Linked DNA regions of Homo sapiens: region 2 is linked to region 1. The links come from fine-mapping of genetic effects on gene expression. A gene starts in region 1. The other region holds a variant in brackets. All regions are shown on one strand. Distances are between the middles of the regions. Region 1 holds the start of MLXIPL (MLX interacting protein like). Region 2 has its middle 16 kb from the start of VPS37D.

What was found. PIP is the estimated chance that this variant, and not a neighbour inherited with it, causes the effect.
Region 2: its variant is fine-mapped to the expression of MLXIPL in lung (TOPMed, PIP above 0.99). The same link has a PIP of 0.9 or more in caudate, cerebellar hemisphere, cerebellum and putamen.

Annotation. Positions count from the first base shown.
Region 1 is chr7:73,615,256-73,631,196 of GRCh38, forward strand. MLXIPL (MLX interacting protein like) reads right to left here and starts at 9,267. Exons shown (of 17, transcript NM_032951.3): 1 at 8,945-9,267; 2 at 816-922. The coding sequence starts at 9,237.
Region 2 is chr7:73,643,590-73,659,530 of GRCh38, forward strand. It overlaps a transcript of MLXIPL not described here. Among named protein-coding and RNA genes, the nearest start is that of VPS37D, 16 kb to the right of the region's middle. RefSeq lists silencers at 4,482-4,551, 4,592-4,641. The variant C/G (reference allele first, on the strand shown) is at 4,100.

The DNA.
Region 1 (15,941 bases):
GATCCCCTCTGCCCAATTGGCCATGGTGGGCACCTACTGGATATTCAGGAAGGACTTCAATGAAAGGCTGGTGGAGACCCATGCGGGATCCTCAGTTTCTCCATTTACAAAGTGATGCAGTTGGCCCCGCTAGTGTCTAATGGCCCTTTTTACCCTCGCATTCAAGGCACCCAACTATGCTAATGGGATGCAAAATGGGCTTTGAACTGTACCTCAAATCTCAGCCTACCCTAGTGCTACTGAGGGGTGACCTCTGCTGTGCCCAGCTTCACAGTGGAAACACCCTTTGGGACCTATTCCCCGAGACCCGCTGGAGGTCAGGAGCTATTCAGGAGTCCTGGTGCTGGGGGCCTGGTCTCCCCCTAAAAGGCTGTCAGGGTCAGGCGTGGTGGCTCACGCCTGTAATCCCAGCACTTTGGGAGGCCAAGGTGGGCAGATCACTTGAGGTCAGGAGTTCAAGACCAGCCTGGCCAACATGGTGAAACCGTCTCTACTAAAAATACAAAAATTAGCTGGGAGTGGTGGTGGGTGCCTGCAGTCCCAGCTACTTGGGAGGCTGAGGCAGGAGAATGGCTTGAACCTGGGAGGCGGAAGTTGCAGTGAGCCGAGATGGCACCACTGCACTCCAGCTTGGGCAACAGAGCAAGACTGTGTCTCAAAAAAAAAAAAAAAAAAAAAAGGTTGGCAGAACTCTGCTAGTGCTGGCCTTGAGGACCCCGGGGATTTTCCTGGGCAGCCACCATGTAGAACCCTCTGGCAGGAGGGTTGGAGGGGGCAGTCCCTCCCGGCTTGGGAGGCTGGTGGTAGCCACTCACACTGGATATACCAGGCCCTCCAGATGGCGTTGTTCAGGCGGATCTTGTCTCTGCAGAGCAGCTTGAGGCCTTTGAAATTCTTCCACTTGGGAGACACCAGCTTGCCACTGTCAAAGGGGAGAGGAGTAGGGTTAGGGAGATGCAGTGCTGCCACAGAGGCTGGTCCCCATATTCCCCATGCACTAGGCATCCATCTATGGTTGGCATTTGAGGGGCCCCTCCAAATCTGGCCCCCCAACCCAACCTGCCTGAAATTCCTATCCAGAGAGTCAGACCTTCAAAATCCCCTTCCAGACTCCCACCAGCGGCCCCTGTGTTCCCTGGGGAGACCTGTTTGTCAGTCTACTGCAGAACAAAAGCCACGCTGAAACCTGTGGATCAGCTCGGCCCTGGAAGCAACAATGTCCAGTGGCCTCACAGGTGTGTCTTGGAGGCTGGCTGGGGACAGTGCTCAGGCCCATTTCTCATTTAAGAGAATAAGAAATGACCTTCCTGGGCTGGGTGCAGTAGCTCACGCCTGTCATCCCAGAACTTTGCGGGGCCAAGGCGGGTGGATCGCCTGAGGTCAGGAGTTCGAGACCAGCCTAGTCCAACATACTGAAGCCCTGTCTCTACTAAAAATACAAAATTAGCTGGCTGTGGTGGCGCACACCTGTAATCCCAGCTACTCAGGAGGCTGAAGCAGGAGAATTGCTTGAGCCTGGGAGGCGGAGGTTGCAGTGAGCTGAGATCACACCGTTGTACTCCAGCCTGGGCAACAAGAGTGAAACTCCGTCTCAAAAAAAAAAAAAAAAAAAAAAGACCTTCCTGAGAGTCAGGGAGGAAAGGGGCAGGTCCGAGGTCACTCAGGCCTCCTTAGGCCCAGGAGAGGCAAAGGGGATGGCCATGGTTTGCCTGGTAGAGAGGGAGCCTCTGTGTTTTGTTTTGGTTTGGTTTGGTTTTTTTTGGTTTGCTTTTGGTTTTGAGACGGAGTCTCAGTCTGTCATCCAGGCTGGAGTGCAGTGGTGAGATCTCAGCTCACCACAACCTCCATCTCTTGGATTCAAACAATTCTCGTGCCTCGGCCTCCCGAGTAGCTGGGATTACAGTTGTGCGCCACCACGTTCAGCTAATTTTTTTGGTATTTTTAGTAAAGACGGGGTTTCACCATGTTGCCCAGGCTGGTCTCAAACTCCTGACCTCAAGTGATCTGCCCACCTTGGCCTCCCAAAGTGCTGGGATTACAGATGTGAGCCACCATGCCCAGCCGAGGGTGCCTCTTTATAGAGAGTGGCAGTCACTGCCTTCATGGTACAGTCCTTTTGGTGTCTGCCATGCCCAGAATCCCAGGGTGGCAACCTGGACTCAGCGAGAAGGTGTGCTCTTCTCAGGGCTGCACAGAAGACAATGAACCAACAGATCCCAAAGGAAGGCCGCTAGGATGAGCAAATGGTATTCATGGAGACAGAGCACCCTCACTCTAACCCTAGCTGTCCATCAAATCCACAGGATGGGCTGGGCGCGGTAGCTCACGGTTGTAATCCCAACACTTTGGGAGGCCAAGGCGGGAGGATCGCTTGAGCCAAGGAGTTTGAGACCAGCCTGGGCAACATAGCAAGACCCTGTCTCTACAAAATAATTTTAAAATTAGCCGGGTGTGGTGGCATGCACCTATAGTCCTAGCTACTAGGGAGGCGAGGTCAGAGGATTTCTTCAGCCCGGGAGTTTGAGGCTACAGTGAGCTATGATCACGCCACTGCACTCCAGCCTGGGCAACAGAGCAAGATCCTGTCTTGAAGGAAAAAAAAATCCACTGGATGGAAGAGCTTACACTGGTGAGGGTCCTGCTAGGCACAGGCCAAGTCTTCTGCCTCCAGGAAGCTGAGCCAGGAGGCCAAGACATTCAGGGTCTTAGACCCCCTGCTAGTCTCTCCCTCCCTCTCTCGTCTCCATCCACAAGCCAGGGTTGTGTACCAGTCCCCTCTAGCCCGCCTTTTGCATCCCTTACTCAGATCTCAGATGGGAAGGCTGAGGCCCCAAGTCTTAGCCATTTTTTCATTTTTTTGAGATGGAGCCTCATTCTGCCACCCAGGTTGGAGTGCAGTGGCATGATCTTGGCTCACTGCAACTTCCGTCTCCCAGGTTCAAATGATTCTCGTGCCTCAGCCCCCTGAGTAGCTGGGATTACAGGCATATGCCATGACACCCAGCTCACTTTTGTATTTTTAGTAGAGACGGGGCTTCATCATGTTGGCCAGGCTGGTCTCGAACTCCTGACCTCAAGTGATCCACCCACCTTGGCCTCCCAAAGTGCTGGGATGACAGGCGTGAGCCACCGCACCTGGCCCCCAAGGCTTAGTCTTTCAGAAAACCATACCTGCTTCCTCCAGGGGTCTTTCCTACATTCTGGGGGTGAAATGTGGGTGGGTGCCAGTCTGACTCCGCAGCCTCTCCCTACTTGAGTGCATTGGTCATTGGGCCCTCTCTCCTCCCTGGTCTCCAAGTTCCTGTGTTTGCTTTGGGGTGGGGGTGGGGGACTGCCCCCTCCCCACCAGGGACAACAGGCCTCATTACCCAAATAAGATACACAGCCCAGCTCTCTGGGCCACTGGCTGGGCCCCTCCCTCTGAGAATTAGATAAACACCATCTGTTTGGTAGGGAGACATGGAGGTGGGGGTGGGGGGAGACTCTGCTACCTCCTGGGCCAGCTTCTTCTGTGGCACCTGGTGGGGGACTCCTGAGTCTGTTGTCCCTGTCTGTATCCCAGCAACCTCCCAGCCCATTCTGATCACCCCGTGTCGCACCCTTGACCTGCCTGCCTTCTCTCCCGCTTCCATGCTAAGGTTATGACGTTCATGGCCCAGGCAGGGTTAGAGCAGATGTGACAGTGACAATATCCAAGCCCAGGAGGAAGAAAAGGATTTGGGGCTGTGAGAGAAGAGACTCAGCCTGGAGGAAGAGCGTAACGCTAGGGTTCAAGAACTTTTTATGACTGGCTGGGGATGGCTCACACCTGTAATCCCAGCACTTTGGAAGGCCGAGGCAGGAGGACTGTAGGAGGCCAGGAGTTTGAGATCAGCATGGGCAACATAGTGCAACCCTGTTTCTACAGTTAAAAAGTTAGCTGGGGCCAGGCACAGTGGCTCATGCCTGTAATCCCAGCACTTTGGGAGGCCGAGGTGGGTGGATCACCTGAGGTCAGGAGTTCGAGATCAGCCTGGCTAACAACGTGAAACCCCGTCTCTACTAAAAATACAAAAATTAGCCGGACGTGGTGGCAGGCGTCTGTAGTCCCAGCTACTTGGGAGGCTAAGCCAGGAGAATGGCGTTAACCCGGGAGGCGGAGTTTGCAGTGAGCCGAGATTGTGCCACTGCACTCCAGCCTGGGCGACAGAGAGCGACTCCATCTCAAAAAAAAAAAAAAAAAAGTTAGCTGGGCATGGTGGTGCAAACCTCTAGTCTCAGCTACTCAGGAGGCTGCAGTGGGAAGATCGCTTGAGCCCAGGAGTTCAAGGCTGAAGTGAGCTGTGATCACACCACTGCACTCCAGCCTGGGCAACAGAGTGGGAACCCGACTCATAAAAAACAAGTAAATTCTGGTTGGGCGCAGTGGCTCAAGCCTGTAATCCCAGCACTTTGGGAGGCCGAGATGGGTGGATCACAAGGTCAGGAGATCGAGACCATCCTGGCTAACGCAGTGAAACCCGGTCTCTACTAAAAATACAAAAAATTAGCTGGGCGTGGTGGCAGGTGCCTGTGGTCCCAGCTACTCGGGAGGCTGAGGCAGGAGAATGGTGTGAACCCGGGAGGCAGAGCTTGCAGTGAGCCAAGATCGCGCCACTGCACTCCAGCCTGGGCGACAGAGCAAGACTCCGTCTCAAAAAACAAACAAACAAAACAAAACAAAACAAAAACTTGTTATGACCAATAGAAAAGTCTGATGAGGAGCAGTGGTGGGCCTGTAACCTAAGCACTTTGGGAGGCTGAGGGGAGAGGATCGCTTGAACCCAGGAGTTCAAGACCAGCTGGGCAATACAGTGAGACCTTATCTCTATTTAAAACTATTAATAGGGCCAGGCGCGGTGGCTCACGTCTATAATCCCAGCACTTTGGGAGGCCAAGGCAGGCGAATCACCTGAGGTCAGGAGTTCAAGACCAGCCTGGCTAACATGGAGAAACCCCGTCTCTACTAAAAATACAAAAATTAGCCGGGCATGGTGGTGCGTGCCTGTAATCCCAACTACTCGGGAGGCTGAGGCAGGAGAATCGCTTGAACCCAGGAGGCGGATGTTGCAGTGAGCCGAGATCATGCCATTGTACTCCAGCTTGAGTGTCACAGCGAGACTCTGTCTCAACAACAAACAAAAAACAACAACAACAACAACAAAAACTATTAAAAGAAGAAAAGAGCTGGGCCCAGTAGCTCACACCTGTAATCCCAGCACTTTGGGAGGCCGAGACGGGTGGATCACAAGGTCAGGAGTTCAAGACCAGCCTGGCCAACATGGTGAAACTCCACCTGTACTGAAAAAAAAAAAAAAAAAAAGCCGGATGTGGTGGCAGGCGCCTGTAATCCCAGCTACTCAGGAGGCTGAGGCAGAGAATTGCTTGAACCCGTTGGGTGGAGGTTGCAGTGAGCTGAGATTGCGCCACTGCACTCCAGCCTGGGCGACAGAGTGAGACTCCGTCTCAGAAAAAAAAAAGAAAAGAAAGAAAAAGGCAGGACACGATGGCTCATACCTGTAATCCCAGCACTTTGGGAGGCTGAGGTGGGCAGATCACTTGAGGTCAGGGGTTCGAGACCAGCCTGGCCAACATGGTGAAACCTCGTCTCTACTGAAAATTAAAAATTAGCTGGGGATGGTGGCACATGCCTGTTACCTCAGCTACTCTGGAGGCTGAGACATGAGAATCGCTTGAACTCAGGAGACGGAGATTACAGTGAGCTGAGATCATGCCAGCGCACTCCAGCCTGGGCAACAGAGTGAGACTCTGTCTCCAAAAATAAATAAATAAATAAATAAATAAATAAATAATAAGAAGGAGAAGAAAACTCTGAGACTTAGAGAGGGGGTTGAGAAAACCCCAAGTTCAGCTGCCCACCTCCCACCTTTCAGGAATTCCTTTTAGATTGCCCCCTAACCAGGTCCTGTTTGCTCCCCTGCACCCTCAAGGCCACTCTTCCTAAAGCTAGCCAGCTCTGACCATGAACAAGTGCTTCCTTGAAGCTTCCAGAAACTACCTCCCTGGGGCTTCCACCCACGGAGCCATGGAAGACGGCCTCCTCGATCCTCCCTCTGCCCACGCTAACCTGCAGAGGGTGAAACCTTGCCAGGCCTCTGCAGGCTGGTCTCTGGGTCAGGCTGGTCCCTGATTCAGGTGGGTCCCTGGTCAAGCTCGCTGTTCTTCCCACCACCTTCTGAACTCTCTGCCTTACTGTCTCTTCCCATATAGTCACTCCCCTGGGACACTCAGCTCCTGTAATCTGCTCCCCTCCAGGGGACCCCTGGAACTGGGGGTCTTTGAGGATGAAAACACTGTCCCAGTTCAAGCCTCAGGGCTTTTCCACTACCAAATGGGGAAATCTAGAAGCTCTCCTGGTACCGAGCCAACCCTCCATCTCCCTCCATCTCCCTCCCTCCCTCCATCTCCCTCCCTCCCTCCATCTCTCTCCAGCTCCCTCCCTCCCTCCATCTCCCTCCCTCCCTCCCTTCCTCCCTCTCTCCCTTCCTCCCTCCCTCCATCTCCTTCCCTCTCCCTCCCTCCATCTCCCTCCGTCTCCCTCCCTCCATCTCCCTCCCTCCCTCCTTCTCCCTCCCTCCTCCATCTCCCTCCCTCCATTTCCCTCTATCTCCCTCCCTCCCTCCATCTCCCTCTCTCCATCTCCCTCTCTCCATCTCCCTCCCTCCTTTATCTCCCTCCCTCCTTCCATCTCCCTCCCTCCCTTCCTTCCTTCCTCCCCCCATCTCCCTCCCTCCCTCCCTCCCTTCCTTCCAACAAGGTCTCACTCTATCACCCAGGGTGGAGTGCAGTGGCACCATCATGTCTTACTGGAGCCTCAACCTCCTGGGCTGAAGTGATCCTCCCACCTCAGACTCCCCAGTAGCTGGTACTAGGAATGTGCCATCACACCTGGCTGATTAAAGAAAATTTTTTTTGGCCAGGCATGTTGGCTCATGCCTGTAATCCCAGCACTTGGGGAGGCCAAGGCAGGTGGATCACCTGAGGTCAGGAGTTTGAGACCAGCCTGGCCAACATGGTGAAATCTCGTCTCTACTAAAAATACAAAAAATTAGCTGGAGGTGGTGGGCGCCTGTAATCCCAGCTACTCAGGAGGCTGAGGCAGGAGATTCTCTTGAACCCGGAAGGCAGAGGTTGCAGTGAGCTGAGATGGCACCACTGCACTCCAGCCTGGGCAACAAGAGCAAAACTCTGTCTCAAAAAAAAAAAAAAATTTTTTTTTTTTTGGTAGAGACAGGTTCTCAGTATGTTGCCCAGGCTGGTCTCCAACTCCTGGGCTCAAGCAATCCTTGGATGAGAACCTTGGCCTCCTAAAGTGCTGGGCTTACAGGCAGGAGCCACTGTGCCCAGCCAGAGATTTACTATTAATATTTGGGTATTTGGGAAGAAAACACAGTCCTCTCTACCCCAGCTATCTCTGACTGGGGTTACATCAGCCTTGAGTCAGCCTCTGGGTGGGGGGGCAATTTTGGGGGTGCGCTCTGTCCCTTACCTTGCCAGCTCCCCAGAACCTCTCCTCTTTGGTCACCCATCGTCAGGGTTGGAAGTGAGGCCCCCTCCCAAATAGAGTGATGTGTAGTATATAATGAGCAGCCAAAGTTGGGGTTGGGTGGGAAATGGGAGACCCTTAGGAGGAGGAGTGCCGGCATCCGGTGTACCAGGACCTTAGATGCCCTGTCCCAGGCAGTCGCGTGACATTTGGGGAGGGAGGGAGAAGGGACGGGAATTTGAACTTTCCACACGGGTCCGACGCCCTGGCCGATCGGGTTGCAACATGACCTGGGCCAGGGGCCAGAGCTTGTGGGCCAAGGTTACTCCGCCTCCAGCCAATGGGGTCGCAGCTGGGCGGCTGCGGTTGGGGGCAGGCAACACTCCCCTCACAGTCCCCACCCCAGCTCCTGCTCCCCCGCAGGGCGGCAGGTGCCGATCTGTAGCCAGCGGTTCTCAGAAGGGGAGGAGGCGCCGCGGAGGAAGAGGAATATTTGCACAGAGAAAAGATCAAGGCCGGCCGATCCCCCTTTCTCCCCTACGGGTTTTCGGTTGATAATTTATACTGGCCCCTCAACTCCGGGGAACTTTGCTCCAGGGCACTGGGCCAGGCCTCGGGTTCGCGCCCTCCTCTGGGACGCGGGGCGTGGAGCGGCAGCGGGGCGCGGCCTGTGCGCTCTCGGTGGCACTAAGCGGGGGTCCCAGGCAGCGACGGGCGCTCAGCCTAGTGTGGCGACGTGGGTAGGCGAACCCAGGCCTCCCGGGCACCGGCGTAACCTCTGCGAGCTGCGCCTCTTGGACATTTCTGGGACATCCTCCTCCCGCCACCCTTAATGTAGCAGATCAAGAAGAGGTGTCTCAGCAATTGCGGGGAGGTGGACGTGAGAGTGGGCCAGTTCCAGTCCACTTTGGTTATGAACTGGGACAATCAGGGGCGCTGGGAGTATCTCAGGGTCCAGGAATAGGGCGGGCTTGGGCCGGGGCTGCTGGGGAGAAGGCCGAGGCCTGCAGGGGGTCGGGTGGAGTGGCTCCAGAGTGGAGAGTGGGGATGGGCGCGGGTGGCCTAGGGACCAGGGGCGCCTGGCATTTTTGTAGGGACGGAGGGGCTGGGACCAGAGAGAGGGGACCAGAGGTCCAGGTAGAGGTGGGGCGCAGGCGGTCTGCGCTTCGGGGAAGAGGGAATGGGGGAGGAATGGGAATCAGAAATGCGTGGGTCCGTCAGGGGCCAGCGGGCTGGGCCGCTGTAGGAGGACCTCGGGGCTGGGAGAAAGGGGGTGTCCAGGGCGTGATCGGAGCCTCCGGGAGCCGCAGGACCGGGCTCGGGTGGGGTGTTGAGGGCCCCAGCGCGCAGTCCTGCCCCGGACCCCCCCCCCATCCCCACCTGGAAGCCAAGGCCGTCAGGGCCCGGAACCGCCCTCACCTGTAGGCCAGGCTCAAGCACTCGAAGAGGCGTGTGAGTGTGGGGTCGATACTGCGCGGCCCGAAGTCGGAGGGCCCCACGGACCCCTCCTGGTCGCGCCGCCGGGGCAGCGAGTCGCTGTGCGGCGACGACACCATGAAGTGACCGCTGTGGATGACCTGCGAGCGGAGCAAGCCGCCCGCGCTGCGCCGGAGACTCGGGTCCTCCGAGTCTGTGTCCGAGTCCGAGTCTGGGCTGGGCGCGACCCGCGGGACCTGCAAGCCCGCGGCCAGACCTGCCAGCGCGCCGGCCATGGCTGTCGCCGCCGCAACCGCCTGGTCCCTGCTCCGCGCAGCGCGGGGAACAGCTCTTGGCCAGCCGGGCCTCATTAACATAGCCCCGCCCCCACACCATAGGCCGATCGGGTGGGCGGGGCCTGGGACGGGGCGGGGCTTGTATTAGCATAATCCTTACGCCAGGTGAGAACCCGGTGCTCTGGAGCTCTGGCGGGTTGGCCCCATCTCCCTTCCCGTCTTTCCTTGGAGTCCTGATAGAGCCGCCCCTACTTTGCTCCAAAGGGATATTAAGAAAGGTCAGGCCGGACGCCAGGGGCTCTTGCCTGTAATCCTAGCACTTTAGGAGGCCAAGGCGGGAGGATGGCTTGAGGTCAGGAGTTCGAGACCAGCCTGAGCAATATGGCAAGACCCCCATCTCTACCAAAAAAATGCAAAAATTAGCCGGACATAGTGGAGAAAGCCTGTAATACCAGCTACTGGGGAGGCTGAGGTGGGAGGATTCCTTGAGCCCAGGAGTTCGACAATATGGCAAAACCCTGTCTCTACCAAACATACAAAAATTATCCAGGCATGGTGGCGTGTGCATGTAGTCCTAGCTACTCCGAAGGCTGAAGTGGGAGAATCGCTTGAGACCAAGAGGTTGAGGCTGCAGTGAGCGGAGATCGCGCCACTGCACTCCAGCCTGGATGACAGAGTGAGACCCTGTCTCCACAACAAAAGGGTCCCCTATCACACCTGAGCCTGAAAGCGCCTCAGGACCTGGGGTTTGTTCTTTCAGGGGCACCCTCCTGTGAGGCCAGAGATCACCATCTCCCCTCACCTAACTCCTGCCCTTCACCTCCAACCCCCGCCCCCCATATTAGCTCTTCTGGGTCCTCCACATAGGTAGAAGCCCCCAACTCTCAGGGGCCTGATGTGGTAAGCCCAAGGTAATGCCCCTGAAGGGCCTGGCCCACAGGAGGTTGCTAACACCTCTAGTTAACATGGTGGCCAACACGGTGGCCGGGCGCGGTGGCTCTCGCCTTCAATCCTAGCACTTTGGGAGGCCATGGTGGGTGGGTCACTTGAGGCCAGGAGTTCGAAACCAGCCTGGCTAACATGGAGAAACCCCTTCTCTACTAAAAATACAAAAATTACCGGATGTGACGATGCGTGCTTGGCTTATAATCCCAGCTACTCGGGAGGCTGAGGTGGAAGAATCACATGAGCCCAAGAGGTGGAGGTTGCAGTGAGCCGAGATCGCGCCCTACTGCACTCCACCCTGGGCAACAGTGAAATCCTGTTTCAAAAACAAAATAAAATACTTAAGAAAAAATATATATTAAAAAAATTGTGATCATTACTTCACCTGCACAGAGAGGCCCAAGGGGAGCCTCGAGGGACTGTTACTGGTAGGGATGGGTGGCTCACTGGAAGGTGGACATCCCCTAGGCAGGCATCTACCCAGGAGCTCTGAGCCCCTTCTCTCACTGACACTGAGGTCCAGCTTTTGTTCCTGCTTCTTTGTATTTTTATTTATCTATATACTTCTATTTATTTATTGTTTTGAGACGGAGGCTCACTCTGTCACCCAGGCTGGAGTGCAATGGCACGATCTCGGCTCACTGCAACCTCTGCCTCCCTGGTTCAAGCGATTCTCCTGCCTTAGCCTCCTGAGTAGCCGGGATTACAAGTGCCCGCCACCATGCCCAGCTAATTTTTGTATTTTTAGTAGAGACGAGGTTTCTCCATGCTGGCCAGGCTGGTCTCAAACTCCTGACCTTAAAGCGATTTGCCCACCTCAGCCTCTCAAAGTGCTGGGATTCCAGGCATGCGCCACCGTGCCCAGCCTATTTATATATTTTTAGAGACAGGGTCTCGCTCTGTCACCCAGGCTGGAGTGCAGAGGCACGGTCATAGCTCACTGCAGCCTCAAACTCCTGGGCCAAAGCGATCCTCCCACCTCAGCCTCCCTAGTAGCTGGGACTACAGGCTCATGCCACCAAACCTGGCTAATTTTTTTTTTTTTGTAGAGATGAAATCTGCTTCAGCCTCCCAAAGTTTTGGGATTACAAGTGTGAGCCACTGTACATGGCCTTTCTGCTTCTGAAGCCTCTTTTCTCACCTTGAGGACAGAAACCAGACTGAGGCATTCACACCTGACACCTCACTGGAGCGTTTAACTAACAGCCTCAAAGATGGGTTCAGAGGCACAGGAGAGCAAAAACACACCCAAGCATCTCTGAGGGGCAGCAGCAAAGCCTGGTCTAGTAGATTTCCAGATTTCCCCCAAGGATGTCCCTAGTGGGTGGGGACAGGAAAGAGTTGTAGGCACATGCTAAGCTCTGCTGGCTTTCTGACAGGTATCCTGTGTGTGGTCATGTTAGGGAAAGCGGAGGAGGTGGTTTCCCATGTGTGGCAGCCTTGGAAAAGGTTGACATGCAGCACTTTCTTCCAGCCCACAGGAGGATCACACAGCACCTAGGATCACAATGGCAGTGCCCTGAGGGCCCCAGCCACTGGCTGTGGGAGGAAAGTGATTATCCAAGGCTGCTCACAGGCCAGCCCTTCCACCCACCTCCCTTGGCCGGGTATCTTCTGTCTCTGCCAAATGTTCGCATCACATTCCCAGGAGCCCCAGCTGTTCTGCTCCATCCTCCCTGCTGCCCTCTGTAGGATGTGCATTCTCTCTGCCCATCCCTGCCAGGTTAGGAAAGGGGGTTCTGATGCTCACCCCACTCTCCCTCCTTTGGAGGGGCTCTGCCCTGCTTCAGAGAGCCATCCCCAAGTGGCCCTCTTTTTTTTTTTTTTTTTTGAGCCAGTCTCAGTCTGTCACCCAGACTGGAGTGCAGTGGCATGATCTCAGCTCACTGCAACCTCCGCCTCCCGGGCTCAAGCGATTCTCCTGCCTCAGCCTCCCAAGTAGCCGGGATTACAGGCGTGTAACACCATGCCCGACTAATTTTTGTATTTTTAGTAGAGATGGGGTTTCACCATGTTGGCCAGGCTGGTCTTGAACTCCTGACCACAAGTGATCCACCTGCCTCAGCCTCCCAAAGTGCTGGTATTACAGGCGTGAGCCACCGTGGCCAGCTCTCAGGTGGCAGTTAACCGTCTTTTGAGGCCCTTGGTACAGAGGCTGACAGGATCATTACTTACCCCTATATGCCTGTCTGGCTTCTCCCCCTATTCCTCCGTAGGCCATTGAGGCAAGACTGTGTCCTAGCATCTCTGAACCCCCACACTGGGTACCTGGAGACTTGGGGGATGCTTGAAGAAAGGGGCATGAGACTAAGAGGAGCGGGTGGGGTGCTGTGGAGGAGGTTGGATAGGAAGTGTCAGCTCCGCCCTCGCCTCTGGCTTGGGACCTCCTGGCTCCGGGGACCCTGGCTCAGGTGAAGACCGGAATTGATCCTTGCTCTGCTGCTAATTCCATGAGTAACACTGGGGAGATCTCTGTCTCTCTGTCTTACTGGCGATCTGTCTCACTACCTGTAAAATTGAGGGCCAAACTCAGTGCTTTCTTTCTTTCTTCTTCTTTTTGCTGTTGTAAAGATGAGGTCTCACTATATTCCCCAGGCTGGTCTCGAGCACCTGGGCTCAAGCGACCCTTCCACCACGGCCTCCCAAAGTGCTGAGACTACGGGCATGAGCCACTGTGCCTGGCCTGAATTCAGTGATTTGTTGGGGATCCAGGAATCTTGGCTCCAAGTCTCTGCTGGCCGTGTCTCCAGATCACCCCACCGTGCTCTCCCCATGCTCTGAAAACATCAGAGTTGTCTCCTGCGGTTTCAGGGACTTTCCTCTGAGCTGGATCTGAGCGGGTGGGAAGATTATGAGTGAATTCTCTCCTTCACCCAACATCCCTCCTTCCCCAGCCATGAATTGCCCCTCAACAGGCATCTGCATCTCATTTCTGCCCTCCTCCAGGGCTTAATAACACCTCTAGAAGCCTAACCGCTGAAAAGACAAACCCTGACTGCACAATGCAAAACATCCAAACACTAGAGTGTCCAATAAATGCAAGGACGTCCACAGATTCTGATTTCTCCTGTGTTTAGAGACAGGGTCTCGCTGTGTCACCCAGCCTGGAGTGCAGTGGCACAATCATAGCTCACTGCAGCCTCAAACTCCTGGGCCAAAGTGATCCTCCCACTTCAGCCTCCCAAAGTGTTGGGATTAGAAGTGTGAGCCACTTGTAATGGGACCACAGGCGCCGCACCCCCTGTTCAGGGCACCATTGCCCAGATAATAGCACAGCCATGTACATGTAAGCTGGCTCACGCTCTTGCTGCTTCTCTAGCCTCTGTTACTATAGCCAGCAGTTTACAGCCTCTGTACAAACAAGTCTTGTTCATGGTCCATGGAGATGCAAGACAAGATCCTAACTGTGGTGTGAATACCTGGCTGTCCCCAGCCATCCCACCTGATGTCACATCCTCTCTGCCTTCCAGTCTTGGTCCTCAGGGCTCTTCACCCAGCCTGCCCTTCCTTGTTGGGAAAGCCCACCTGTCCTTGAAGTCCCACCTATGACATCTTCCCCAAGTTCTCCAGGTTATTTCTGAGTTCCCACCACCCTTGTTCTTTTCTTTTCTTTTTTTTTTTTTGAGACCAAGTCTTGCTCTGTCGCCCAGGCTGGAGTGCAGTGGCGTGATCTCAGCTCACTGCAACCTCCACCTCCCGGATTCAAGCGATTCTCCTGCCTCAGCCTCCTGAGGAGCTGGGATTACAAGGGTGCACCACCACGCCTGGCTAATTTTTGTATTTTTGTAGAGACGGGGTTTCACCATGTTGGTCAGGTTAATCTTGAACTCCTAACCTCGTGATCCACCCTCTTCAGCCTCCCAAAGTCCTGGAATTACAGGAGTGAGGCACCGTGCCTGGCCGCACCACCCTTGTTCTAATATAAGTCTAATTTCATTCAGCTTTGCATTCACAGTGATGACGCACGTGCTTTTCCTCCCCACTAGATGGCAAATTCCTTGAGAGCAAGAATCACTGCTGGGCGTGGTGGCTCATGCCAGTAATCCCAGCACTTTGAGAGGCCAAGGGGAGGATTGCTTGAGCCCAGGGGTTCGAGACAAGCCTGGACAGCATAGCAAGACTCTGTCTCTACAAAAAATTAAAAAATTAGCTATTTGTGGTCTTGTAGTTCCAGCTACTTGGGAGGCTGAGGTGAGAGGATCGCTTGAGCTCAGGAGTTGGAGGCTGCAGTGAGCTATAAACATGCCACTGTACTCCAGCCTGGGTGACAGAGTGAGAACCTGTCTCTTAAAAACTAAAAGGCACGTTCATAAATTATTCCATTTACTAGTGAGCCTGTCAACTGTGTGTATATGTGGGTGTGTTAGAATTTTCATTGCCATTTTACAGATGGGGAGACTGAGACTCTGAGAGGTGAAATGATCTGGCGGATTGTGGTGAGAATTAGCTATATAAAGCTAACCTTTATGGAGCACTTACCACCTAGCAGGTCCGCAGGATCTTCACAACAGCCCCTTGGCTTGTCTTTTTTATTATTTTTATTTATTTATTTATTTATTTATTTATTTATTTATTTATGAGACGGAGTCTTGCACTGTTTCCCAGGCAGGAGTGCAGTGGCACGATCTCAGCTCACTGCAAATTCCGCCTCTTGGGTTCACGCCATTCTCCTGCCTCAGCCTCCCAAGTAGCTGGGACTACAGGCGCCCGCCACCACTCCCGGCTAATTTTTTGTACTTTTAGTACAGGCGGGGTTTCACTGTGTTAGCCAGGAAGGTCTCGATCTCTTGACCTCGTTATCTGCCCGCCTCGGCCTCCCAAAGTGCTGGGATTACAGGCCAGCTTGTCTTTTTTTTTTTTTTTTTTTTTGAGATGGAGTCTCACTCACTCTGTCACCCAGGCCAGAATGCAGTGGCATGATCTTGGGTCATTGCAAGCTCTGCTTCCTGGGCTCAAGTGATCCTCCCACCTAAACCTCCCGAGTAGTTGGGACTACAGGCGTGTGCCACTATGCCCACCTAATTTTTGTATTTTTTGTAGAGATGGGATTTTGCCATGTTGGCCAGGCTGGTCTTGAACTCCTGAGCTCAAGCAATCCTCCTGCCTTGGTCTCCCAAAGTGCTGGGATTACAGGCGTGTGCCACTGTGCCCGGCCTACCCTTTGATTTTCAACACATTTTGCAGATAAGAAAACAACCTTTGCTGAAGGTCACATGATAAGAAGAGAACTGGGATTCAAACGCAGACAATTGAATGCCAGCCTGTTCCACAAGTACCTATGTTCTCAAACTCAAAGGGCTGGCCATTGTGCAGGAGGATGTGGTACGAGCAGACACTCATCTACTGCTCCTGCCAGTGGAGGCAAAATCACTTTGGAAAGGTATTTGGCAGCATCTACTAGCATTGAGCATCTCCCACCTTAGTTAGAACCCAGCAGTGTGCACACATGTGCACCAAAACACAAGACTATTCGTGGCAGCACTGATCTTACTAGCCCAACACTGGAGATGCCCCGGATGCCTATCAACAGGTGAATGGATAAATACATTGCAGAACAGTCACACTAGGGAATACTTTTTTTTTTTTTTTGAGACGGAGTCTTGCTCTGTCACCCAGGCTGGAGTGCAGTGGCATGATCTCAGCTCACTGCAAGCTCCATCTCCTGGGTTCATGCCATTCTCCTGACTCAGCCTCCCGAGTAGCTAGGACTACAGGTGCCCGCCACCACGCCCAGCTAATTTTTTTTGTATTTTTAGTAG
Region 2 (15,941 bases), 28 kb after region 1:
ACCCAGTTGTGTCTGATGGCAGAGCCCAAGTATGTCTTTCTGCTGGGCTGCTTGGTGGAACTGAAGGATGACCCGTCCCTTAGGCCTCCTTGCAAACATCATGTGTCAGGTAAATCCACCCAAGACTGAGCTAATCAGCAGGTACTAGGACAGAGGGGACAGCTGGCACATAGTAGACACTTTATTTTATTTTTTGGAGGCAAGGTGTTGCTCTTTTGCTTAGACTTCAGTGCAGCGGCACCACCATGGCTCACTGCAACTTTGAACTCCTGGCTCAAGTGATCCTCCCGCCTCAGCCTCCCAAGTAGCTGGGACTACAGGTGTGCATCACCACCCCTGGCTAATTTTTAAAAATTTTTATATAGATGGGGGGTCTCACTATGTTGCCCAGGCTGGTCTCAAAGTCCTGGGCTCAAGCAATCCTTCTGCCTCAGCCTCCTGAGTGGCTGGGACTATAAGCTTGTGCCACCATGCTTGGCTAATTTTTTTGTAGAGACAGGGTCTCACTAGGCTGCCCAGACTGGTCCCAAACTTCTGGTCTCAAGCAATCCTCCTGCCTTGGCCTCCCAAAGCTCTGATATTACAGATGTGAGCCACTGCACCTGGCTGAGGACTGGTTTTGTCTTTTTTTTTTTTGAAGCTGAGTTTAGCTCTTTCTCCCAGGCTGGAGTGAAGTGGCTTGATCTCGGCTCACTGCAACCTCCACCCCCAGGCTTCAAGTGATTCTCCTGCCTTAGGACCTCCCAAGTAGCTGGGATTACAGGTGCCCGCCAACATGCCCGGCTAATTTTTGTATTTTTAGTAGAGACAGGGTTTTGCCATGTTGGCCAGGCTGGTCTTGAACTCCTGACCTCAGACGATCCACCCGTCTCAGCCTCCCAAAGTGTTAAAATTGCAGACACGAGCCACTGTGCCTTGCCGGTTTTCTCATCTTTAAAATGGCTATGACTATGTGATGTTATTGTGCAGTTGTTGCAAAGATGAAATGAAATATGTAAGTGAGAGCCAGTGGTACCTGGTAAATGTGGGTTTTCTTCTTCTGTCCCTCTTTTCCTCCCCCCAGCCCGCCCTTTCTTCTTTCCTTCCTTCCTGGTCGACATCTCTGATTACAATGTCAGAGAACCAGGAGCTGTAGGACAAAGAAGATAGGGCGACAATCTCCTCCAGGGGACTCAGGGATGGAAAACGCTTCTCAGACTGTTGCAGCAGGTGACAGTCATCTGCTCTGCCCAGAATCTCCTGGCCTCTCCCCTGCTGGATAACTGGCCCCATGCCGGCCCCATCAGGGCATCAGGCCCCTGGACTGAGATAGAAAGTGGATCCCAGGAAGCATATCTCTCGCCCAAAGTCACACTGCTAATGGGGCTGAATATGGGACAAGAACTTTTGTGACTACCCAAGCCAGCTAGCAGGGGGTGGCCTGGGATTCTGGGTAGAGCATTTTTTTTTTTTTAAGAGAGGGGTTCTTGCTCTGTTGCCCAGGCTGGAATGCAGTGGTGACATCATAGCTCACTGCAGCCTCAAACTCCTGGTCTCAAGTGATCGTCCTGTGTCAGCCTCCTGAGTAGCTATGACTATATGCCTGTGCCACCACACCTGGCTAATTTTTTAATTTGTTGCAGAGACACAGATCTTTCTATGCTGTCCAGGCTGGTCTTGAACTCCTGGCCTCAAGCAACCCTCCCACTTTGGCCTCCCAAAGTGTTGAGATTACAGGCTTGAGCCACTGCCTCTGGCCCTAGGGCAGTAGTTGTCTGTCTCTTATTTATCAGTGCCAGGACCTACCCTGGGAATATTCTGTTCACTCTTCCCTTGTTGGGGGCCCCCTTCTCCAAGGTCAGCTTAGCTAACTTCAAAGAGGAGAGACAGAGCCACCTTGCCCCTAAGTTTCAGGAGTGAGAAAGATGGGTGGGGAGGGGGTGGAGGTGGGTGAGGTGGGCGCAGGACACATGGACACCCATGAGCTGACCTGGGAGGTTGGGGGTCAGCCAATGTAATCCCCTCTTGTGTGTTTCTCCCTGAATGCAGAGAATGCACCACCCATGTTGCTTCCAGACCTCCTCCCAGCTCTGCTCAACAGTCCAGGCGAGCCCATTTAACCCCAGGTTACAGGTGTGCAGAGTGAAGCCCGGAGGAGGACAGGGCTTGCCAAGGTCACTGACAGTAGTGGGAACAGAAACCAGGGCTTTGGAGCCAAGATGCTTGGGTTTGAATATCAGCTTTGCCGTTCCCAGGCTGTGTGACCTTGAGCCAGAGCCTTGACCTCTCTGAGCCTGTTTCCTCATCTGTAAAATGGAGATCTTTTCCTTCTCTGGTTATCAGGAAGAAGGAAACAGTGCCAGAAAAGCTTGTGCAGTGCCTGGCTTGCAGTAAATGCATAGCAAACCCCAGTTCCTCTTCCTCTTCTCCTATCTGAACAGCAATCCTAAGCCTGCACGTCCCCTCTCTCTTCCCTCCTCTGCCCCACATCTGTAGCCAAAACTTTTTCTTTGGCCCTAACCAGAGAGTGAGGACTGCACTAATGATGGCCTCTCCCAGCCCCTGACAAACCCAACACATGTCTAAGCTTGCATTTAGCCACCACAGGGCTGGCAGCAGGGCCAAAGACAGCCCCGGGGAGGGTACCCAGGGAGGGCCATTGCCTGAAGGCACTAGAGACTCTGGGCAAGTGTGGCTGCAGGAGCCTCGGAGACATGACCTCTCCCACTTCCACGCTTCCAGTCCACTCTTCCATCCCACTCTACAGCCTGCAGAAGCTCATATGCCAGCCCTCCACTTCAGCTGACAAACATCATCTCCACCAGTGCCACCCCTATATCGGCCAGAGGATTTCAATCACAGGATTCCAAGACACCAGGCGGATGCTTCCTGGACCCTGGCTCTGAGCTGCCCTCCCATGTGGTCCCCAGGCTGAGTCCCAACCCCAGCCTGAGCCCCAACCCTGATTCTAAACTGAGCCCTGGCCTGGCTCAGCCAGCAGACTGTGTCCTTAGGGGGCAATTAGGGAGAAGTGAGATGGGTCATCTTCTCAAGATGGGGAAACTCCTGGCTACTACAGCTCAGACCTCTTCTGGTATTACAGAATCTTCCTCCTCTCCCAGAAGCTACCCTAGGCTGAGGAGCTGAGCTTCCCTGGGGCGGACCTGAGATTCCCAGACCTGTATTCTGAGACTTCTCCTGCATCTGAGGGCCTGGGCAGGACATGGGGCAGGGGAGTTGCTGAGTGTAAGATAAGTTCTTGGGCAAAGTGGGGACCAGCTCAGCTCTCATAGATCCCTGGTCCCCCTGACTTCCTGACTCAGCTGACCCTGTAACACCATCCCCCTTGTGAAGGCCCAGAGGGACTTGGTTGGAGTGGGCCACACTGTCCCCCAAAGCAACCTGGTGTTCCGTTTTACTCTGTCCCCATCTCCACACGAGTGGCCCAGGAACAGTAAACCTTCCCATGTCACGGAGGGAGAGCCAGGCCCAGAGACGGAAAGTCGTGCGCCCAAGGTCACACAGTCAGACACAGACAAGAACCCAAAGCTCCCAAACCCAGCCCAGAGGTGGGGGCAGGGTGGCTGGGAGGAAGCCCTGGCTTTCCCCCCTGGGCAGAGCAGCAGGAGTGCCGGCCACCACTTCTGTGGCCCCCACCTGTTGGCTAGAAGCCTAGGGGCCAGAATCCACATACCCCACCCTGCCATCTCCCTTCTTTCTGTCCCAGCCAGGGGCAGTTTTGGTCCTCCTCATCCCAGGGCCCACCTGGACAGGGTTTCTCCACTGGCATGTCACCTGCCCAGGGCAGGGAGAGCCAGAGGGAGGAAGGCCCTCCCTCCTGACTCCCTGGGCCCCCTCTCAGCTCCTGGGAGAACCTCCCAGACCAGGATGGAAGCCCAGCCCAGTCCAGCCAGTGGGAGACACGGGGCTTCCAGGACCCGTGTGCACTTCACCTTCTAGCAGGATGAATTCTTGGATTCCTGATCCGGAGTCCTCCCTGGGGTACGAGTTTGCCTCCTTCCTCCTGGCAGCTGAGGCTGAGCGAGGAGGCCACATAAGCCTATGAACCCCTTCAACCCAGCTGAGCCAGAGACGCGCGCCTCTATGGGCAGAGGGGAAA[C/G]TGAGGCCCAGCACAGAGGCGGATCCAATTCCCCTTGGGTGAGGCCCCTGCACCCACCTGATGACGCGGGGGCTCCACGCCCTCACCTGGAATCCGCTCGACCTGCAGAGGGGCGCGGCGCGGCCAGGGGCGGGCGGCGGGCGGCGGGGGCGCTGCGGGGATGCTTGGGACCGCCGGACCGCGCCCGGCGCCTTCTCCGCGCGGGCGGCAGAGGGCTCCGTGCGCTGCGCCGCGGGCCCGGCTTTTAGCAGCGGGTGTGGACGCGGGCACCCCCGCCCCGCTCCGAGGTGTCCTTTGCCCCTTGATCTGGTGCCTCCTTCTCTCCTTAGCACGTGGGCGGCAGCCGCTCAGCCGCTCAGAGGCCTGTGGGGCAGCCATGGCCCGGGCCCTGGGCTCGGGCGCCTGCCAATCCCCGTCTGCCGCCGGCTCGTGCCCGCTCACCTTTAACCCCCTCTACTTTCCCCGGGGGCTCGGTGCCCGGCCCCCAGCCGCGGGCTGGGCTCGGGGAGGGAGGAGCCGCAGGTGTGGGGCCACCCCAGGTGGGCAGAGAAAGACGCTGGGACCGCCTCGGGCTCCTCCCAGAGCCCCAGCCCGGCTTTGAACCTCCTCCTAGTCCCTGAGTCCCCCCAGCACTCTCTCTCACTCTCATCCCTCACTCTTACTCTCTTCTCTCCCCGCTTTCTCTCTTTCTCTCTCTCCCCCTCCCTTTCCTCTCCCTCTCTCTTCTCTCCTCCAGGCTCCTCTCTCCCTCTCCCCTCACTTTCTCTCTACCCCCTCTTCTCTCTCCCCCTTCTCTCATCTCTCTCATTCTCCCCCTTCCTCTCTTTCCCTCTCTCTCTCCTCTCTCTCTGTCTCTCACTCTGTCTCTCTCCTCTATCTCTCTCACTTTCTCTTTCTCTCTCTATTCCCCTCCTTTTTCACTCTCCCCCCTCTCTCCTCTCTCTCTCTCATTCTCCCCCTCCTCTTTCTTTCTCTCTCTCTCTCACACTGTCTCTCTGTCCCTTGTCTCTCCCTGCCCCGTCTCTCTCCCTCTGTCTTCTCTCTTTCCCTCTGACCCTGGCTCTCCTCTCTCTCTCCCACCCTCCTCTCTCTCTCCTTTACTTTCTCTCTATCCCCTCCTCTCTCTCTCCTTTCTCTTCTCTTTTTCTCTCTCCCTCTCTCCCCCCTCTCTCTCTCATTCTCCTCCCTCTCTTTCCATCTCTCTCCTCTCTCTGTCTCTCACTCTGTCTCTCTCCCTCTCTCTCCTCTCTCTCTCACTTTCTGACTTTCTCTCTCTCCCCCCTCCTCTCTTTCTCCCCCCTCTCTCTTTCTCTCTCATTCTCCCCCCTTTCCCTCTCTCTCCTCTCTCTCTCACTCTGTCTCTCTCCCTCTCTCTCTCCTCTCTCTCTCTCACTTTCTCTCTGTCTCTACCCCCTCCTCTTTCTCTCTCTCCCTCTCTCTCCTCTCTCTCTCTCTCATTCTCCCCCCTTGCCTTTCTCTCTTTCCCTCTCTCACTCCCTCTCCCCCTTCTCTCTCCCTTTCTCTTCTCTCTTTCCTTCTCTCTGTCTCTCACTCTGTCTCTCCCCCTCCTTTCCCCCCCTCTCTCTTCCTCTCCTCTCCCTCTCTGTCTCTCCCTCTGTCTCTGTCTCTCTCTCTCTCTCACTGTCTATCTCCTGTCTCTCTCTCATCTGGCTCACTGAGCCCCATTCATTCCCTCTTTGACCAGCTTCATCCCATGCTCCCTCTGAGTCCCCCCTCAAGCCCCCACCCTCCCTGCCCTTGACATCACATCCCCTCCCTAAACCCCACTCCCCTCCCTGAGCCCCCATTCCTCACCCCTCCCTGAGGCCCTTCCTGCCTTCCGGGGCCCACTGACTTCCCCTCTCTTGCTCTTAGTGCTGTGTCCTCTCAACTCTTTTTTTTTAAGCAATGGGTTCTCACTATGTTGCCCACGTTGGTCTCTATCTCCTGGTCTTAAGCAATCCTCCCACCTCGACCTCCCAAAGTGCTGGGATTACAGGTGCAAGCCACTGGGCCTGGCCCAGACTCTTACATTTACTCCACAAACATCCTTAAACACCCTTGGCGTAGCAGCCCAGTGAGAGAGCGGGATAGGCCAGCGGTGGTATCAGTTTCAAAGTCCAGGATGGATGCCTCCAAGTCCTCAGAGGTCCTGTGGAGTAGGCACCACCTGGGAAGGGGGCATTCAGGACCTCAGCTTGCCTGCCAGCTTCAAGGGGCCGTGTGGGGTAGAAGGAAGGATCCCCCTGGCCACCGCTCGGCCAGGAGCGGGCAGTGTGGGATGGAAAGAAGAAAGGGCTTTCACAGCCACCCTACCCAGCAATGAGGCAGCTTCCTCCCAGCCCCACGGGCTTCCTTCCTTCTACGGCTAGCGGGGGGCAGCAGAGGCAGAAGGGATCCTGCCAATAATGCCCCTCAGAGTCCCCTGGTGATGGCAGGAGGTAGAGCGCAGGGGGAAGGCCGGGGGCATGCCGGAGGATGAGGCTGAGCCCGAGCCCAGAAGAGACCCTGAGTTGATCAGATTCTGCCCACACACCATTTATTTGTTTTGAGACAAGGTCTCGCTCTGTCACCCAGGCTGGAGTGCAATGGTGCAATCTCAGCTCACCGCAACCTCCGCCTCCTGGGTTCAAGTGATTCTCCTGCCTCAGCCTCTCAAATAGTTGGGACTACAGGTGCATGCCACCACGCCCGGCCAGTTTTTTTGTACTTTTAGTAAAGATGGGGTTTTGCCATGTTGGCCAGGCTGGTCTCAAACTCCTGGCCTCAAGTGATCTGCCTGCCTCGGCCTCCCAAAGTGCTGGGATTACAGGTGTGAGCCACTGCGCCCAGCCCCACACCCCATTTGGAATTCACTCTGCCTGAGGGTGGGCGGTGGTGGTGGAAGGGTGCATCTTGAGAAGGAAGCAGATGAAGACACCTCCTGCTTCTTCCACCTGCCTCATACGTCCTGGTGGGTCAGCTTGGCCTTCTCTGCCCACTGTTTCCTGTCTTGCATGAGTTTCTTGTCACGTGACCTCCTACTAGTAGGCTTCAGTCTGCTACCTTGGACAGACACCTGTTCATGGCCAGCGCCAGGACCCAGAGTCAGCGTGTGTGTGTGTGTGTGTGTGTGTAAAGGAAGTGGGGCTTGAGCCACCACCACATTGACTGGCTCTGCAACTGGGCATGATACTGATACTCCATCTCCCAGGGCCTCAGTTTCCCCATACATAGGGTTGGTGGATTTAGCAAATACAAATCCAGGATGCCCCATTAAATTTGAATTTCAGATACACAATGGCTTTTTTTAGTATAAGTATGTCTCATGCCATATTTGTGGCATACTTATACTAAGAGATTATTCATAATGCTTATCTAAAACTCAAATTTAACTGGGCATCCTGGGTTGACCCTACCCATATGTAAAACAGGAGAGGCAGGGAGGTATGAATAAGATGTTCTCCAGTGGGGCATGGTGGTTCATGCCTCTAACCCCAGCGCTTTGGGATACTGAGGTGGGAGGATCGCTTAGACACCAGGAGTTTGAGACCAGCCTAGGCAACAATATAGTGAGACCCTGTCTCTAAAAAATAAAAATATAAAAGATGCTCTCTCTCATGAATGCTCTTAGCTCCAGCTACACCCTGTGAAAAACCTCAGGTCTACCTGAAAGTGGTCCAGAGATGTTTGTTTGTATCCCTTGCAGAGGAAGAGGAGAGCTGGGGGAAGATAGGAAGTAGGGTGCAGGACTCAGCTGTGGTCACAGGGCATCAAAGAGAAGAGGCAGAAAGAAGAAGTTCCTAGAGGCAGTGCAATCCTGGAGGGCTTTCTGAAGGAGGAAGATTTTCATGGTTACTTTGATGCTGGAAAGGAAGGGAGGTGGATTAGGGGGCCTCTGGTGGAGTGCTCCCTGACTTTAATGGAGGTGGAGAGGCATGGAGGGTCTCCTCTTTTTTTCTGAGAAAGAGAGTTTCACTTCTTAGCCTGGGCTGGAGTGCAGTGGGTCCACCATGGCTCACTGCAACCTTGAACTCCTGGGCTAAAGTGATCATTCTGCTTTAGCCTCTTGAGTAGCTGGGATCACTAGTAGGCTCCAACACGCCCAGCTAATTTTTGTTTGTTTTTGTAGAGACAGGGTCTCACCATGTTGTCCAGGCTGGCCTTGAACTCCTGGGTTCAAGCAATCCTCCTGCCGTGGCCTCCCAAAGTGCTGGGATTACAGGTGTGAGCCACTGTGCCTGGCTGTGAAGATCAATATAAAGTATCTTCCCCTTCATATGAAGAGTACCTATACCTAGGGCAGTCTCTCTTCGACCCAACAAGTTACTATCACTTTTTTTTTTTTTTTGAGACAGAGTTTCACTTGTGTCGCCCAGGCTGGAGTGCAGTGATCTCGGCTCACTGCAACCTCCACCTCCCAGGTTTAAGCGATTCTCCTGCCTCAGCCTCCCAAGTAGCTGGGATTACAGGCACCCACCACCACGCCTGGCTAATTTTTGTATTTTTAGTAGAGATGGAGTTTCTCCATGTTGGCCAGGCTGGTCTTGAACTCCTGACCTCAGGTGATCCGTGTGCCTCGGCCTCCCAAAGTGTTGGGATTACAGGCATGAGCCACCATGCCTGACCCCAGTACCACTTCTTTTTTTTTTTTTGAGATGGAGTCTCGCTGTGTCTCCCAGGCTGGAGTGCAGTGGCTCAATCTTGGCTCACTGCAAGCTCTGCCTCCCGGGTTCACGCCATTCTCCTGCCTCAGCCTCCTGAGTGGCTGGGACTACAGGCGCCCGCCACCACACCTGGCTAATTTTTTGTATTTTTAGTGGAGACGGGGTTTCACCGTGTTAGCCAGGATGGTCTCGATCTCCTGACCTCATGATCCGCCTGCCTCGGCCTCTCAAAGTACTGGGATTACAGGCGTGAGCCACCGCGCCCGGCCCCCCAGTATCACTTCTGACTAACATTTACCAAACACTTACTACTTGCCAGGGTCCCGCCCACACCTGCTAAGCTGTTTATGTGGGTTAATCATTTAATCCCTTCCACAACCAGATGAAGTGAGTGTGTTTCCCCCACTTTACAGAAGAAGAGACAGAGGCACAGGGAGGTTGGGTCATTTGAGGTTCATACTGGCCGTAAGCGGCGGAGCTGGAATTTGAGCCCTGGTGTCCTGGCTCTCTGTACCTGCCGTGTGACAGATCCTGAGCTGGAAGCTGGAACTGGAGAAATGACATAAATGCCATCCCTGCCCTCAGAGGACCTCTGGTCTAACAGTGGGGACAGGTTAGTCTCTAAGAACTCCAGTACAGGGCAGGCTGGCATCAGAGCTGTGAGGGAGCGTGCCGGGAAAGGACTGATTCAGTCTGTGCATGAGGGGAAGTGGAGGCTAGGATGAGAAGGATGAGTCAGTTCTACAACAACCTTCAGCTTTAGGATCAGACATTGGGAGAAATAGTATTCCTTTCTCTTTTTTCTTTTCTGTTTTCTTTTTTTTTTCTTTTTTAGATGGAGTCTTGCTCTGTCACCCAGGCTGGAGTACAGTGGCGCAATCTCGGCTCACTGCAATCTCCACCTCCCAGGTTCAAGCGATTCTCCTGCCTCAGCCTCCCGAGTGGCTGGGATTACAGGTGTGTACCACCACCCGGCTAATTTTAGTATTTTTAGTAGAGATGGAGTTTCACCATGTTGGCCAGGCTGGTCTCAAACTCCTGGTTCTCTCCCGCCCAGCCGGGAGGAAGAGCATTCTAGGTGAAACTACGTCTTGAGCTAAGGCAGAAGAGGTGTGGAAATGCAGCATATGATTGGGGAATGGGCCAGCCACAGTGGCTCACACCTGTAATCCCAGCACTTTGGGAGGCTGACATGGGAGGACAGCTTGAGCCCGGGAGTTCAAGACCAGCCTGGGCAACATAGTGGGATTATACCTTTATAAAAAATAAAAATAAATAAATCAGCCAGGCATGGTGGTGCATGGCAGTAGTCCCAGCTACTCGAGAGGCTTAGGCGGGAGGATTGCTTCAGCCCAGGAGGTCGAGGCTGCCGTGAGTCGTAATTGTGCCACTGTATTCCTGCCTTGGTGACAGAGTGAGAACCTGTCTTGAAATAATAATAATAATAATTGTGAGTAAAAAAGCCCCCCAGAAAGTATATACTATATGATTCATTTACGTAAAATTCAAGAAAATGTAGGGTAACCTGTAGTGAGACAAAGCAGATTAGAAGTTATTGTAATCAGCTGGGCGCAGTGGCTCATGCCTGTAATCCCCGCACTTTGGGAGGCCGAGGAGGGCAGATCACCTGAGGTCAGGAGTTCAAGATCAGCCTGGGCAACACAGTGAAACCCCGTCTCTACTAAAAATACAAAATTAGCCAGGTGTGGTGACACATGCCTGTAATCCCAGCTGCTCGGGAGGCTGAGGCAGGAGAATCGCTTGAACCTGGGAGGTGGAGGATGCGGTGAGCCGAGATCGCGCCATTGCACTCCAGCCTGGGCAACAAGAGTAAATCTCCGTCTCACCAAAAAAAAAAAAAAAAAGAAAAAAAAAAAAGAAATTGTAATTGTAATCCCAGCACTATGGGAGGCCCAGGCAGACCTCCCTCACTTGAGGTCAGGAATTTGAGAGCAGCCTGGGCAACATAAAAAGACCCCATCTCTACTAAAAATACAAAAAAATCAGCCAGGCATGGTGGCACACACCTGTGGTTTCAGCTACTTGGGAGGCTAAGGCATGAGGGTCACTTGAAAGCCGGAGGAAGAGGTTGTAGTGAGTCAAGATATCGCCACTCCAGCCTGGGTGACAGAGCGAGACTCTGTCTCAAAAAAAAAAAAAAAAAAAAGAAAGTAAATCTTTGTGGGCCAGGTGCAGTGGTTTACACCTGTAATCCCAGCATTTTGGGAGGCTGAGGTGGGTGGATCATCTGAGATCAGGAGTTCGAGACCAGCCTGGCCCCGTCTCTACTAAAAATACAAAAATCAGTCAGGCATGGTGGCAGGCACCTGTAATTCCAGCTACTCAGGAGGCTGAGGCAGGAGAACCACTAGAACCCGGGAGGTGGAGGGTGCAGGAAGCCATGATCACACCGCTACACTCCAGCCCGGGCAATACAGCAAGACTCTGCCTCAAAAAATAAATAAATAAATAAATCTTTGTGACTTTGATTTAGAAAATTGTTCTTTAGATAGGACACTAAAGCACAAGCAAGAGAAGAAAAAATAGGTAAAATGGACTTCACCAAAATAGAATAAAAAACGTTTGTGCTTCAAAAGACATCATCAAGAGAATAAAGATAACCTACAGAGGGGAACTAAATTGCAAATCATATATCTGATAAAAGACTAGTTTCCCAGAAATATAAAGAACTCTTACAATATAAAGATAGCCCAATCAAAACATGGGCAAATTGTCTGATCATTGCAATGCTATTCACAATAACAAAAACATGTAATTAAACCAGGTGCCCATCAATGGTGGTTTGGATAAAGAAAATGTGGTATGGATACACCATGGACTACTACACAGCCATAAAAAGGAAGAAAAACCATGTCCTTTGCAGCAACATGAATGCAGTTGGAGGCCATTATCCTAAGCAAACTAGCACAGAAATAGAAAATAAAATACTGCATGTTCTCACTTATAAGTGGGAGCTAAACATTGGGTATATATGAACACAAAGATGGTGTATTAGTCCATTTTCACACAGCTGATAAAGACATACCCAAGACTGGGTAATTTATACAGGAAAAAGGGTTTAATGGACTTACAGTTCCACGTAGCTGGGGAGGCCTCACAATCATGGTGGAAGGCGAGGAGGAGCAAGTCACGTCTTACATGGATGGCAGCAGGCAAAGAGAGCTTTTCAGGGAAACTGCTATTTTTAAAACCATTGGATCCCCTGGGACTTATTCACTATCACAAGAACAGCAGGAGAAAGACCTGCCCCCATGATTCAATTACCTCCCACCAGGTCTCTCCCACAACAGGTGCGAATTCAAGATGAGATTTGGGTGGGGACACAGCCAAAACATATCAGATGGTAACAATAGACACTGGGGACTATAGAGAGGAGAGAGAGGGAGACAAGGGCAGAAAAACTACCTTTTGGGCACTATGCTCAGTACCTGAGTTCAGTCATACTTCAAACCTCAGCACCACGCCATATACCTCATAAAAAATCTGCACATGTACCTTCTGATTCTAAAAGAAAATTTGAGGCCGGGTGTGGTGGCTCATGCCTATAATCCTAGCACTTTTGAGTGGGTGGATCACTTGAGGTCAGGAGTTCAAGACCAACATGGTGAAACCCCATCTCTACTAAAAATAAAAAATAATTAAAAAAAAAATTAGCTGGCGTGGCGGAGTGCACCTGTAGTCCCAGTTACTCGGGAGGCTGAGGCAGGAGAGTTGCTTGAACCAGGGAGGCGGAGGTTGCAGTGAGCCAAGATCCTGCCACTGCACTCCAGCCTGGTGACAGACAGAGCAAAACTCCGTCTCCAAAAAGGAAAAAAGAAAAGTTGGGGCCGGGCGCAGTGGCTCATGCCTGTAATCCCAGCACTTTGGGAGGCCAAGGTGGGTGGATCACTTGAGGTCAGGAGTTCGAGACCAGCCTGACTAACAGGGTGAAAACCCCGTCCCTAGTAAAAATACAAACATTAACTGGGTGTGGTGGCGGGCGCCTGTAATCCCAGCTACTCGGGAGGCTGAGGCAGTAGAATTGCTTGAACCTGGGAGGCAGAGGTTGCAGTGAGCAAAGATGGTGCCACTGCACTCCAGCCTGGGTAACAGAGCCAGACTCCATCTCAAAAAAAAAAAAAGTTGAAAAAGGAAAAATAAAAACAGAGGCAAAGGGTCTTAATACACATTTTTACAGAGAAGATCTACAAATGGCCGATAAGTACCGTACATGAAAAGATGTTTGACATCATTAGTCATCAGAGAAACACAAATCAAATTATGAGATGCCACTTCACACCCACTAGGGTGGCTATAATTAAAAAAGACGGGAAGCTAGTGTTGGCAAAGAAATTGGAACCCTTGGCTGGGTGTGGTGGCTCAACCTGTAATCCCAGCCCTTTGGGAGGCTGACGTGGGAGGACCACTTGAGGCCAGGAGTTTGAGACTAGCCTAGGCAACATAGTGAGACCCCCATTTCTACCAAAAAAAAAAAATGTAAAAAATTAGTCAGGCATGGTGGTGCGCACCTGTAGTCCCAGCTACTCAGAAGGCTGAGGCGGGAGGATCACTTGAGCCCAGAAGGTTGAGGCTGCAGTGAGCCATGAACACACCACTACACTCCAGCCTGGGGGACAGAGAGACACCCTGTCTCAAAAATATAAAATAAAATAAAATAAAATAAAATAAAATGAAATAAAATAAAATAAAGAAATTGGAACCGTTGTGCTTTGCTCGTGTAAATGTAAAGAGGTACAGCTGCTTTGGAAAGCAGTCTGGCCCTTTCTCAAAAAGCTAAACATAGAGTTATCATATATTCACTCCTCAGTATATACCCAAGAGAAACGAAAACATATGTCACACAAAGATTTATATGCGAATGTTCATAGCATTATGCATAATAGCCCCAAAGTGGAAAAACCCCAATGTTCACCAACTGATGAGTGGGTAAACAACTTATGGTACGTTCATTATAATAGAATATTATTCAGCCATAAAAAGCACAACATACATACACAAAATATTATTCAGCCTTAAAAAGGAATGAAGTTGGCCAGGTGCAATGGTTCAGGCCTGTAATCCCAGCACTTTGGGAGGCCGAAGCAGGAGGACCACTTGAGGTCAGGAGTTCGAGACCAGCCTGACCAACATCTTGAAACCCCGCCTCTACTAAAAATACAAAAATTAGCTGGGCATGGTGGTGCATGACTGTAATCTCAGCCACTTGGGAGGCTGAGGCAAGAGAATCGCTTGAACCTGGGAGGAGGAGGTTGCAGTGAGCCAAGATCATGCCACTGAACTCCGGCCTGGGCAACAAAACGATACTCTGTCTCAAAATAAATAAATAAACAAATAAATAAATAAAACAAAAAATCAGCCAGGGGCCGGGCATGATGGTTCATGCCTGCAATCCCAGCACTTTGAGAGGCTGAGGTGGGTGGATCACTTGAGGTCAGGAGTTCGAGACCAGCCTGGCCAACTGGTGAAACTCTGTTTCTACTAAAAATACAAAAAAAAAAAAAACAAAAAAAAAAAACTTGGCCAGGTGTGGTGGCACGCAGCTGTAATCCCAGCTACTCGGAAGGCTGAGGCAGGAGAATCACTTGAACCCGGGAGGCAGAGGTTGCAGTGAGCCAAGATCACACCACTGCATTCCAGCCTGGGCGACAGAGCAAGACTCCATCTCAAAAAAAAAAAAAAAAAAAATTAGCCAGGCACGGTAGCATGTCTGTAGTCCAGTGACTCAGGAAACTGAGGCAGGCAGATTGCTTGAGCCCAGGAGTTTGAAGCTGCAGTGAGTTGTGATGGTGCCACTGGACTCCAGTCTGGACGACAGAGCGAGACTCCGTCTCAAAAAAAAAAAAAAAGAAAGAAAGAAAACATTATACTGAATGAAATAATCCAGTCACAAAAGAAAAAATACTATATGAGTCCATTTATATGCGGTATCTGGAGTAATCAAATTCATAGAGACAGAAAGTAGAATGGTGCGTGCCAGGGGCTGTGGGGAAGAGGAATGAGGAGTGAGTGTTTCATGGGGATGGAGTTTCAGTTTGGGAAGGTGAGGAAAATTCTGGAAGTGGATGATGGTGACGGTTGCACAACAATGTGAATATATTTAATGCTACTGAGCTGTTCATTTAAGTGGTTTAAAGGATAAATTTTATGTTACATATATTTTACCACAATAAAAAAATCAAAAGGAATTAGGTACTGATAAATGCTGCACTGTGAATGAATCTTGAAAACATTATGCTGAATAAAAGCAGCCAGTCACTGGCCGGGGGCGGTGGCTCACGCCTGTAATCCCAGCACCTTGGGGGCCGAGGCGGGAGGATCACGGGGTCAGGAGTTCGAGACCAGCCTGGCCAACATGGCGAAACTCTGTCTCTACTAAAAATACAAAAAGTAGCTGGGTGTAGTGGTGGGCGCCTGTAATCCCAGCTACTTGGGAGGCTGAGGCAGGAGAATTATTTGAACCCGGAAGGTGGAGGTTGCAGTGAGCTGAGATCATGCTATTGCACTCCAGCCTGGGCGACAAGAGCAAGACTGTCTCAAAAAAAAAAAAAAAAAGCCAGTCACGAAAGACCATATATTATATGATTCCATTTATAGGAAATGTGTAGGATAGGCCAATCTATAGAGAAAGAAAGTAGATTTGTGGTTGCCAGGGCTGGGTGGGCAGGCTTGGGGGCAAATGCAGAGTCACTGTTGAGATCTCTGCTCACTGCAACCTCTGCCTCCCGGGTTCAAGCGATTCTCCTGCCTCAGCCTCCCGAGTAGCTGGGATTACAGGCACCCACCACCACACCCAGCTAATTTTTTTTTTTTTTTTTTTTTTTGAGACGGAGTCTTGCTCTGTCACCCAGGCTGGAGTGCAGTGGTGCGATCTCGGCTCACTGCAAGCTCTGCCTCCTGGGTTTATGCCATTCTCCTGCCTCAGCCTTCCCAGCAGCTCGGACTAAAGGTGCACGCTGCCACGCCCAGTTAATTTTTTTTTTTTTTGTATTTTTAGTAGAGGGGGGTTTCACTGTATTAGCCAGGATGGTCTTGATCTCCTGACCTCACGATCTGCCTGCCTCGGCCTCCCAAAGTGCTGGAATTACGGGCGTGAGCCACCACGCCCGGCCAATGCCCAGCTAATTTTTGTATTTTTAGTAGAGATGGGGCTTTACCATGTTGGCCAGGCTGGTCTC